Regions from separate parts of the Homo sapiens genome. Here region 2 is linked to region 1. Evidence: fine-mapped expression QTL. Tissue or cell type: whole blood. Region 1 holds a variant in brackets; the other region holds the start of a gene. All regions are shown on one strand. Distances are from middle to middle.

What was found. PIP is the estimated chance that this variant, and not a neighbour inherited with it, causes the effect.
Region 2: it holds the start of KRT73, and the variant in region 1 is fine-mapped to the expression of KRT73 in whole blood (INTERVAL, PIP 0.98).

What each region holds. Positions count from the first base shown.
Region 1 is chr12:52,579,263-52,585,556 of GRCh38, forward strand. No RefSeq gene overlaps it. Among named protein-coding and RNA genes, the nearest start is that of KRT74, 8.6 kb to the left of the region's middle. RefSeq lists an enhancer at 5,776-5,945 and a cis regulatory region at 5,861. The variant G/A (reference allele first, on the strand shown) is at 3,359.
Region 2 is chr12:52,616,188-52,621,834 of GRCh38, forward strand. It overlaps KRT73 (keratin 73), which reads right to left and starts at 2,372. Exons shown (of 9, transcript NM_175068.3): 1 at 1,891-2,372; 2 at 1-193. The coding sequence starts at 2,337.

The sequences.
Region 1 (6,294 bases):
TGTAGAGCATATTGTGCAGTAAGCCTCTATTTATTAAACACTTAGCAGAGGATGTTTAGTGACCTGAAACCTGGCAGTTTCCTTATCACTGCTAGTCTTATGGAACTTTCTACCTGCACCTCTCGGGGTAAACGTGGGGGAGCTGCATCTCTGCAGACACCCTTCTCTGAGTCTAGGACCTTCCCCACGTCTTCCCAGCATGGGTGTCTCCCTCCTCTCTGCTGCAGCCCAGCTCAGGAGGGGCATGCTCCACCCTTCCCACCTGGAGAGAGAAACATCAGAGCAGTTTAACCAAGTGGTTGCAGGGCCATATGGTGCCTTTATGCCAATCATGAGAAAAAGGCACCCCTTCCTCTGGGCAGACGCAGCCCTTTCCCAGGGTGCATGGCTGGATTTCAGCCTCTACTTCCCCCGCACTGAGACTTAGTGCTCAGCACAACCTGCACGCCCCTCCAGGGCTGCCCTGGTAGCTTGCCTAAGTCTTGGGGATGGGCTCACGTTCCACAGATGAGTTGGAGCCTCTGGTCAGAGCTGTCCTCCTGCACAAAGGGTCATGGGAGCCTCCTGGCTTCCCCGAGTACTTGCCTCCTTCTCCAGGGCTGCCTGAGATCTGTCTGCCAGTTCCCAGGGTCTTTCCTCTCTGATCCCTGGGGAAAAGTGGTGGTCTCCCAGCTCCCTCATCACTGGAACCCCCAAGGGCTTGTCCACCAGGAACTCTGCCCCGCCTAGCTTTTCTCTGGCTTGGGGATCCGCGGACTACTGTTCATTGTTCCAGCCTGAGTATCCTTTTGTCTTCAGCACCTCCTGGATTGTCTCTCCAAGCTCCTCCATTCTTGGTTCTCTCCCTGCTCGGGCTCCTAAGGTTTTTATGATGGAACAGGCCCCTAGCCACTTACTGTAGATCAAACACTCTTTAGTTCTCTTTCTCTCCTCTTTTTTTTTTTTTTTTTAAAGAAAAGCTCTTTGAACTCTTTACGACTCTACCCACCACCTACCTAGTCATCACAGGGAACTTTTCTCAGCTCCAGTGCACATAGGTATGTGAAGACAAGCACTGTCTTGCCCTGGGAAGGACACATTTCTTCCATTTGTTCATTTTAAAATTCCACTAGGCCCCCATCTGGGCACTATTTAATCCATCTCCTTACCTCAGACCCCCTCCACCTCCCCTCCAGCCACTTCAGGAAGAAATTTATATTGTCTGACACCCCAACCCCCTTTATTACAGGATTCATTTTTGAAAGACAACAGGGAGGCTGGGGGAAATGCCTTAATCTTTTGATCTTCACTGTGAAGTTTGATGCTTGATCCACCTCTTCCTCTGCCCATTTGCAAAGCAAACAAGCAGGCTGTGCATTGGGCTGTAATTAAGCCACATCATCACTAATGACATGCTCTCTATCTCCCATCATCAGAGCATCATACAATCCATCCAAACAGGAAGGAGAAGCCCAGCCCTGCACCGTCCCTGGGGAGTGCTGGAGTGGTGGGTCAGGCCTGGGGTGGCAACTGCCTCCAGTGTGGAAGGAATGACCAGCTTCCCTCCCTGGGCCCACATCATATCTGAGCCTGCTGGGCCCTGGGGAAAGGTGTTAAGAAGGGACAGGAGAAGGGAAGAGATACCAGGCAGGGCAGAAGCACTAGGGGCCTGGACCACCATAGGCAATGTGGAAATTGGGAGGAAGAAACATAAAAGTAGCACATCAAGAAGAAATAGAAGAAGTGGAGACTTTAGAGAAAGGAGCTAGGGAAGGCTGGGTCAATGAGGAGGGGAAGTTGCTGCTGAGGGAAGGGCTAAAAACAGAGAGAATGGAGGATGAACCCCGAGGCTGGGGCAGGGGGCTGAAATGAGCCTTTCAGAGCTCCATGGGAGACACATCCATGCAGCCCCACCCTGCGGGTGGAAGGGATGGTTGGCCTGCTGGATACAGGGAACCTCTCACTGCTGTGGGGTGAGGGACCCTCAGCACCACCCCACCGATGCAGACCTGCCATGGAATTAGAGGCTTGGGTCCGTGGGGCCTAGGGCAGGCTTGACGCTGGCACCTGAGCCTCGGGGTCAGAGAGTGAGCTCCTCCATCTGGAGCCAAGACCACAGCCAGCCCCTTTGGAAAGTTCTATCCCCCTCTCCTACAGAAAAGGAGGCAGGAGATGTTGACACCAGGAGACCAAGTCTCCATCTTCCCATTGTCATGGGCCCCCGCTGAGGCAAGTGGTGTCTTATGCAGGGCTATCAGGTTGGACACACAGCTGTGGGTTCAGGAGGCAGGTTATGAAATAAGCCAGGAGTCTGCAGATCCAAGAGTTGGGGAGAATGACTCACATCATGGGGAAACCCGTCTGGAAGTGAGAACCGGTGAAAGCAGGTCCTGGGTCCTGGTGGCTCCTATTTCAGGGAAGAGGAACAGGGGCAGCGTGGAGCAAGGGTGGGGGCTGCATGTTTTAACAGGGGGCCAAGGAGAAGGCTCAGAGGAACCAGCAGCCCTTCCAGGAAGAGAGAACCTTCTGGAAATGGATGTGGGCTGGGAGGCTGGAGGAGAATGTAATGGGACTGGAACGGAGCCAGAAGCTAGCCTGGCAGGTGTGCCTCAGGTTCGACGAGGCTTGCTTTGCACTAGTCACTGTGCTAAGCTTTTTGCACATTTTAACTCATTTCATCCTCACACCAACCTGTCAGGTAAATACTCTTGTTTTTCCCACATTACAAGTGAGGAAAGAGAAATTGAGCAGAGAAACTGAGTTGCCCACATTGCAGTTATAACTGGGAAAAGAAACAAATCAACAAAAGGATTCAGATCCACACCTGGCCGACTGCAAAATGTGTGTACCTCCACACTGGACTTCTAAGGTCCCTTTCAGTCCTATATCCACCACGCTATGGTTCAGTTCCTGAGCTCGGAGCAGCTTTAATCTAGAACTTGAGCTGCATCTGGAGTTCCAGGAAGAAGAATCTGGAATCTCTCCTGGAGATGGACGAATTGGAAGCAAGAAGGAGGGATTTCGAGGATAAGCCCTCTAAGAGGGGCCTGCATCCAAACGGGGATGCAGCGTGGACGACTTACCGGGGAGGAGGGATGGACAAGCCAATGGCAGCTGGTTTGCAGGAGAGGAGGGACCCTCAACATCTCTGGTGCTCCTGGAAGCTTTGCTAAATGTGAATGTAAGAACTGAGGGGCAGTGCAGAACAATTGTCCTTTGTGTAGTTGCCACTCTATAGGTGGCAGAAGTGGCAGAGCCCCTGAGATGGAGATTGGAAACAGCTGGCAAAGGGCGGCTCAAACCCCAGAGCAGCTGCCAAATGGGACCTAAGCAGTCTTTAACAAGCTCCCTGTCTCCAACAATTCACATCCCTGTTACC[G/A]CCTCCTCCAGGAAGCCTTTCCAGATTGTGTTCCTCTCTCAGGCCTTTCTTCCTATGGAGCCCCCTGGCTGTGCCTTGCCAGTGCCTCCATGCCTGGCTCATCTACTGCCTGAGAAAGAAAGAGTTCTCAGAGGAGGGAGGGGTTTGCACACTGTGCAGGCAGGGCTTAGGAGAGGGGGTCTCAGCTGAGTCATGGGGGCCCTCACTCCAAGGACCTCTGGATCAGCACCAAGATTTTCAGGAAAAGCTGTCTGAAGGCCTCAGGTTCTCTAATAAGAGGTGTGGAGGTTCAGGCAGCAGGCAGCATCAGCCCCTGCCCCCTCCTCCTTCCTGTAAGAGGAGAGGCCAGAGAGGAGAGGAAGAGGAGACAGGAGTCAGACCCAGGCAACACAGAGGCTGGGGCCAGCCTGGGCATGCCAGGGAGTGAAACAGCATCCCCTCCCACTGGCAGCTCCGCGAGGGGCGCAGAGCCTGTCTAGGGTCATCCCACGCCCTCTCTGCTGTAGGGAAGTCTTTCCTCCAGAGTCACAGGGGTAGAAAGTGCAGTATCCAGGACCAATGGCAGAGGGCAGTGTGTGCACAAAATAGAGGCACCGAGGGTTTTTCCCCTGCTTGGAAATGAACAGCCAGTGAACAGATAGGAATGTATTTTAGTGAATGGACCCAGTGCCCTCCACCTTTCACTTAGCCCATCTCGGCCAGGTCTCTGGGCAAAGTCCTGCTGTTGGTCCACACCTCTCAGACATGAACCAGCCCACAGCCAGCAAACACAGACGTATGCTTTAAAAATACTAGTAATAACAGTGAGCATCTACAGGTGTCAGACTGTGTTCCAGGCACTGTTTTACTCCCCTTATCTCTTTTCCTATTCTCTGATCTCCTCTAAGGTGAGTTCTTTGAAAGGTAAGGAGGTGTCGAAGCCAGGAGCATAGACTCCAGAATCAGACTGGAATTCAGATCCTCCCATTTACTAACCAGGTGACATTTGGTTAGTTACTTAACTCCTCTGAGCTTCAATATCCTCACAAGTTAAATGGACATTATAATAATCGCATCTTATAAAAATAATACATGTCAGATTGTTGGGAGAATTAATTGAGTTACCAGCCATAAAGTGCTTACCAGAATGAGTGCTGAGAACAGTTTCTGGCAACAGAAAGCACTTCATAATGGCCAGCTTGTATTTATCTTCTTTTACAAGGGCAGGATCTTGCACTAGGCCACTACTGGCAATTAGAAGAGCTAGGATTCAAAGCTAGGTATATGACTCTTCTGCCACTATGCTAGGCCCAAGGGGACCATTTATCTGACAGTCCTGGCTTTGCCAGTTGTCCAAGGATCCACCTTAGTATTTATTTAGATCAAAAGTGTCCCAGTTTGAGTGACTGCCTGCACACAAATGCATATAAGACACAAATTTATTAACACAAATATGTCATATCACTTGCATACCAGACAATTGAGACATGGGTATGTTGTGTGTATATCCAGCTCTTTTTCCCAGGGAAGGTGGGCTAAACTAAGGCATGCATTCCCATGGTAAAAGTGCTGACTGCAAGCCGGACCCTGGAACAAGGGGATGTAGGGCATGGAGTGAGGGACAGACATGTGAGCAGCTGATATGACACCAGAAAAATAGAGTGCCGGCTTTAACACAGGCTCAGGACAGGGCTGTGAGTGTACAAGCCACTGGTCCAGCCCCGGCTGCTCACCAGTGGTGTGAACATGGACAGGTCACTCAGCCATCTGGGACTCGGTTTGCCTGCCTGTAGAATGGGGGTGTGGGGTAGGGAGGTGTTGGGCCACAGCTGTATTGATCCTTCTCATGTAATGCTTGAAGATGGATGGGTCCACCTGGAGGGACCAGGCACCACAGAAATGTGGGTGGTGGAGTCTCAGCCAGGCCACACAGGTGCGCAGGCTGTCCATCACGGGTAATGGACATCTGAGGTTGAGAAAATGATATGTGCAAAGGCCCTCAGGTGTGAAAAGTCTGGCCTGCATGGGGAAAGGCTGGAGAATAAGGTGGGAAACGACACGGGGGAGACAGGATCTCGGGCACTCTGAATGCCATCCTCAAACGAGGTTTGCACTTGAAAGATGGTCTCGCATTAAGGGTTTTTTTCAAATCAACTGTGCTAACTGACTCTGAGAAACAAACATTCTTGCAGAAACACACACATACACACACAAACATACACACACATACACATACACACACACGCAGAGCTAAAAGAGCATCCTTGAATCTCTCAGCTTCTTACTCCACTGAATTTTTCTTCATAGTAGTTAACACTGCTTGACTTCATATTATATATTGCTTTGGTAGGTGCATATTTTCACTCTCCCTCTATGGGGCCAGTGTCTGTGCCTATTTTGTTTATTCTGGTATTCCCAGTGCCTGAGCAATGCCTAGCTCACTAAATATTTGTTAATTGAGCACTATTTCATATACACCTTAGATAGAGAGGCTACAAGCATATATACACACAGGCCTTACATGTTAGGGTGAAAAGGAAGTTGGTTAAAAGAAGAGGAAGACAGGGCCATTGTGTGGGAGCAGGACTGGGGAGTGAGTGGTGGGTGGTGGAGAGTGAGACAGTGGGAGAATGAAGGGAAGACCACTCGCTACACAGACAGTGAGTGTGCTCAACCATGGGTGCTTTGAGAACCAGAGCAGGAAGCCATGAGGAAGCTCTAACATCTGTATCTATCATGGGGTAATGATGTCTTGCAGGGCTATTGTGCAGAATAGGTGGCACAGGGCACGTGAAGCAATGGGCCTGCCCGGCCCTGGCCTCAGTAATACATTTCAACTGTTTACAAGGATCAGCCCTCACCCAGTGCCTACCTGGCTAAAACCAGTGAAGAGCCACATGAGCCCAGAGTGAAGCAAGAATCAGATGAAGAAAAGTTAAGGCACTGCAGATGGTGAC
Region 2 (5,647 bases), 37 kb after region 1:
CTTCGCGCACGCTCCTCAGCTCCGAGTCCAGCCTCACCCTGTCCCCAGACAGCGTCTCCAGCTGCTTCCGCAGGTTGCTGATGTAGCCCTCAAGGATGGGCTCCAGGTTATTCTTGCAGTTGTTCAGGTCCAGCTGCTGTAGCAGCTCCCACTTGGTCTCCAGCACCTGGTTCTGCTGCTCCAGGAACCGCACCTGGAACCCATGCCACACATACTTAAGCAATGTGGAGAGGGGATGTGAGAATTCCCTTCCTGGACAGGAACTGTGTTTTCTTATGCTACATTAGCTTTAAAAATGAGCCTCAGCCCTTAAAAACTGCCACCCATGCCACTCACACCCCCACTCCTTACCTAGGGTCCTTTATCTGACTGAAGTTCTCACTCTGAGGCAGCCCTTAAGGTTGGGAGGGGCACCAATGTCTTCATTTCCCTCTCAAACTATCAAGATCTAGATCTCCTGTCTCCTCTGCACTTATCCAAACCTGCCTGGACCGATGTCCATGTTCAGTCCAGGCCACCTCTCCAAGGCAGCCCCTTAGACACAAGCTGGCCTGTGCTAGCCTTCACACTGTCAGGCCTTCTGCTCGGGGTCTGGTGGCCCGTGCTCTGCCTAGTCTCTCCCTCCTTGTGCGTGGGCTCTCCCAGCCCAGCCAGAGGCAGATGTTCAGCTTATCTGGGGTCTCCGGCCCTCCTAAGTTGCTTTCATGTCTGAATCTCTACTATCTCAATCACAGCATTGTCCCAGCAGCAGAACAAGCATTCTCAAGTTGCAACCTACAAATATATCATTCCCTTGCTTAAAACCCTCAGGTGGTTCCACATCACCCTCAGGGTCAAGTCCATATTCCTTATCACACTCTTCATAATGTGCCCAGCCCTCCTGGCTTCCTTCTTTACTCATACAGTGATGTCGTAAACCGAAGGTCTCCCATTCCCCAGACAAGTTCTACCATGCTGCACGTGCTGTCTCCCTAGATTGCCTTTTCCCCACCTCCATCTGAAAACTCCTACTCATGCCTCACCACCCTACCTCACTGTCGCTCCGGGTGAGCTTCCCCTGCTCCTCTAAGCTTAGGAAGTCTCTGCTTCCCAATACCTTCCTACCACTTTGTTCCTCAGTGATTCTCAAACCTGAGTGTACATCAGCATCACCTGGAGAGCTTGTTAAAATGCAGGGTGCTGGGCCCTGCTGCAGAGTCTCTGATTCAGTTGCTCTGGGGTGGAGCCTGAGAGTGTGCATTCTAACAAGCGTCCAGGTGACGTTGCTGCTGCTGGTTCCAGGGCCACCTTTGAGAACCACTGCTCTAGGGCACCGTGACCTCCAGCTGCCTTGCCTCATAGGCTGTGTGTGTTACGGACTGAGTCTGAGCTTTCAGGGGACACAGGAGGAACAGCTGGGTCGCATGGCAGTCTAGATGCCCCAGGCTGTCAAGGGCATCTCCTTCGCCTAGCTTCTAAGTCTCACAGGCTGTCACTCTGCTACTTCTCAACTCAGAGACCGCTCTCATTGCTTCCTGGACACCTTCCTGGGCTAGGCTGCTGGCTCCTCTCACCCCTCCAACCCTGGTCCCTTGCCTCTGATGTCCAGGCTTTGTCCAGTTCCTCCCTGGGCTATGTCTGCATCCTGGGGAGGTGTCCTGCCTTCGTCTGCTTCAGACAGGGAGCACCCCAAGGACAATGAAGGCGGGGGAAGGAAGGGGCTCTACGGCATGAGCAAGCCTTATGGGCCCAGCACCTGGGGAGCTTTCAAGTTGTTTACCTGGTGTCTGATTTTGCTGGGAGAAAATGATTTCTTGCTCTCAGGCAAATTGAACCACAAATTAGGGCAGTGGCTCCCTCCTGAGTCCTTAAAAGGGGAGCCCAAGATCAGCTTTCTCCAGAAAGACCCACCTTGTCAATGAAGGAGGCGAACTTGTTGTTCAGCACCTTGATCTGCTCCCGCTCCTGGGCACGCACTTTCTGGATTTCAGGGTCCAGCTCCACGTTCAGGGGTGCCAGGAGGCTCTTGTTGATGGTGACCTGATGGATACCCCCGGGCGGGCACAACGACGGACACACGGACCCCAAGGCCACACTGCCAAACATGCTGCCAGCAAAGCCACTGGCCCGGCCCCGGCCAAATCCATAGCCTCCTGCCCACCCACTGCCACTGGCCACATTGAAAGAGATGCTCCGGGCACCCCCCAGGCTGTAAAGGCTCCGACTGCTGAAGCCTCCACTGAGCCCTTTGCCCCCTGCTCGGTAGGAGGATGAGCTGCCCCCTGAGAGCACAGCGGAGCAGCCGCTGAAGCCCCCCTTGGCAGCAGCTCCCGACTTGTAGGTGAATTGGCGGCTCATGGTGGGGAGGCCAGAAAGTGGGGATAAGATGCTGACCCTTAGCTGAGATGCAGTTCACCAGCCTGTGATCCTGGGCTCCCACTTTATAGGACTCAAGAGGGAGCCATGGGCCTAATTTGTGGGTTCAGTTTGCCTGGAAGCAAGAAATCATTTTCTCCCAGCAAAATCAGACACCAGGTAAATGACTTGAAAACTCCCAAAGTGCTAGTCTTGCAAGTCTTGCTCATGTAATTTGAGTTTTATCTAATGAACATGTGTAATTAGCATGGGCACATTATCCATAGAAAGATCTTAGGTGGGAGGTTTGTCGCAGTCTCAATTGCTGTTCCCCAGGGAGTGGTGGGGCCTGGGATTGTAGGGGTACAGAGGGGAGACCTTTAATTGACAGTGTCATCTGTTAGAAATCTCACAACCATGCCAGCATCAGATGGGCTGCTTCAGGGACCCTGGCTGAGCTGCTTTTATGTGGTTAAGAAGAGGCTGCTGCTGCCTGGCTTCCCAGAGTTCCTGGAGACAGGTTTGATGGCTGGCCAGGGCCATAGGAGAGGAGCACACTGGGAATCCAGGACCAGCCTCTGGCTGCCAGCCCCCTGCTGTGCCCTCCCAGGCAGCTCTCCTGCTCCTCTGTGCCAGCCGGGCTGCCCTGCTCACCTTCCTTTGCACACACTGACTTCTTTTTCCCTTTACCATCCCACTACCCTGACTCTTGACCTTGAAATTATGGTCATTGCACCATTCACGATGGCTGACACTGGTGCAGCACTTTACAGTGTAACAGAGCTCCTCACACAAGAAGCTCATTTAATCCACTTAGTCTGCATGGAGGGGAATGGTGATGATCCACATTACACAAATGGGGAAACCAAGGTTCAGATAATTGAGGATGTCATTCCTTTAGCAAACATTTAGTGAGTCCTTTCTTTGTGTGAATCCCAGAGAATGAAAATGCCCCCAAAAAGCACAGGCCCCAGCCTTGAGGACTCCCTTGGCTGGTCTTCTGACTCCACATTCAGAGCTATGCCCGCCTTATTCATTCGTCCATCTATCCGTCCAACCAGCCAGCCAGCCATCTACTTGTTCATTCATTTATCCATTCGTTTAACAGACTTCTCTTGAGGGCTGACTCTCTCCCAGGTACTGTGCTAGGCTCTTGGGTCCCGAATTATGAAGACCAAACCTAGCTCACAATTTTGGAGATGGGGAGGTAGGGGAAGACATTTGAATTTCATGGATCCTTGACATTGCCAAAGTATGTGACCCAAGAGTTTCCCAAATCCCAAATCCCAAATATATCCATAGTATAGAATTTCCTCCATAAAAACACAAGTATTTCACTAGCTGGAGTACTTGAATGAACAGTTGGCCCATCCTTCTTTTCTATTTCTGTATAGAGGTTATGATATGCCTCTAAAATTGTTGTACTAAGCAATTGCCAAATTCAACCTCCCCTCTGTTTTATACAATATGGTTGTTTTCTAGTTAAGAATAATCATTTTCTTTGATGTCTTCAATTTCACTAAAGGCAATGCCACTTGGAAGTCCTTTAATCTTTTTTAGCTAACATGAAGTTCTATTCCTTTTTTTCTTTTTTTTTTTTTTTTTTTTTGAGATGGCGTTTCACTCTTCTTGCCCAGGCTGGAGTGCAATAGCATGATCTCGGCTCATCGCAACCTCCACTTCCTGGGTTCAAGGGATTCTCCTGCCTCAGCCTCCTGAGTAGCTGGGATGCAACACCACGCCCGGCTAATTTTGTATTTCTAGTAGAAATGGGGTTTCTCCATATTGGTCAGGCTGGTCTCGGTCTCCCAACCTCAGGTGATCTGCCCGCCTCAGTCTCTCGAAGTGCTGGGATTACAGGCGTGAGCCACCGCACCTGACCCAAAGTTTCTATTCCTTTGTAAGTTTCTTTGTAAGGCACAAAGAAGACCAACAAAACTGCATTGTGATGAGAATGCTTAGTATTCCAGCCAGAATCACTCCCTAATTGGCTCATTTCAGCACACCAGCACTGGGGTGGAGGTGATTCAGGCCTGCATCTCAGCAAAACTACAAATTGCTGCATGTCACAGGCCCTGAGATAACCCCCAATGGCATTTATGCTGTGAATGCCAACTCTGCAGTATGGCGTGGATGTGCTTACGAGCAAACAGCCCCTCTCCTTATGGTTTTCACTTCCCCTCCCCTCCCTGGCCTTCTCATCTTGTGAACCTGCCACAGAGGCACTTCCGGAAACCTTCTCTGATCACTTTCCTAATCCAATCACACCTCTCTTCCCAGCCTCCCACATGTTGTTTGTTGTCCAAACAACAGCATCTATTATGTCAATTGTCTCTTCTAATTTGATGTCTCTACCTGTGTTCAGGAGGTATGTCAATCTTTCCTAACGGCCAGAAATTTTCCTGAGGACAAGATCCAGGTCCTATCCTCCCTTTGGTCCTCTCTACTCACTTCCCAGAACTCCAGTGGCAAAGGACTCTCAGGCAGTCATGGACTAGGCTAAAAAACTCTTAGGTGCCCTTTGAAATCATTCTCCCTAAGAACAGTATCCCTAGCACCTGTCATTGAAATGCCTCTAAGTGGGTTTTCACACAGTGAGCTCCTTATATTTCACATCCCTTATATTGCCCTCACCAGGGGAAACTCAATGCCAGATGAACCCAATTACCAAGTCAGCCCCACTTCCCACAGTGGGGCTGTCCTGCCATTAGCCTCTGCCCAGACACTAGGGCAAGAGTTTCTGATGGTTTCAGAAAAGAGAGAAAGAAAGGGGGGGGGGGGGAGAGAGAAAGAGAGAGAGAGACAGGCAGGAAATCAACTTTCTGTCACCCCCAGGGGCAATCAAATAAATATTGTGAAATCAGTATTCCCTATGTGGATATTCCACAACTAGAAAGATGAAGTAGACATACTTTTCCCTTCTTCACAAACATAAGAAGACTCTGAAGCGTAGAGAAGAAGGCACACCAACAGGGACCTCAGGACCCAGTGAAAGACATGATGATTATTTCTCTAGGTTTTCTATTTGTCTCCTATATTCCAGACTTGGGGCAGAAGAAGGCAGGAATCTGGAAAGGCTCAGATTTTTAAAGATTAAACAAAAGCTTGATCTCTGTAGCCACATCATCAGGAAAGGGGCAGCCTAGCAAGATGGAAAACTTACAGAGAATAATCACTCTATTCCATCTCAACACACAGAAAATACTATGGTTTCACCTACACCCACATCAGCAAAAGCTGAGTGTGAGGCCTAGACCTTCACACTCACCAGGCTATAATGAGGTGCCCCAACTGCCCCCTCCCCCAGCAGTTA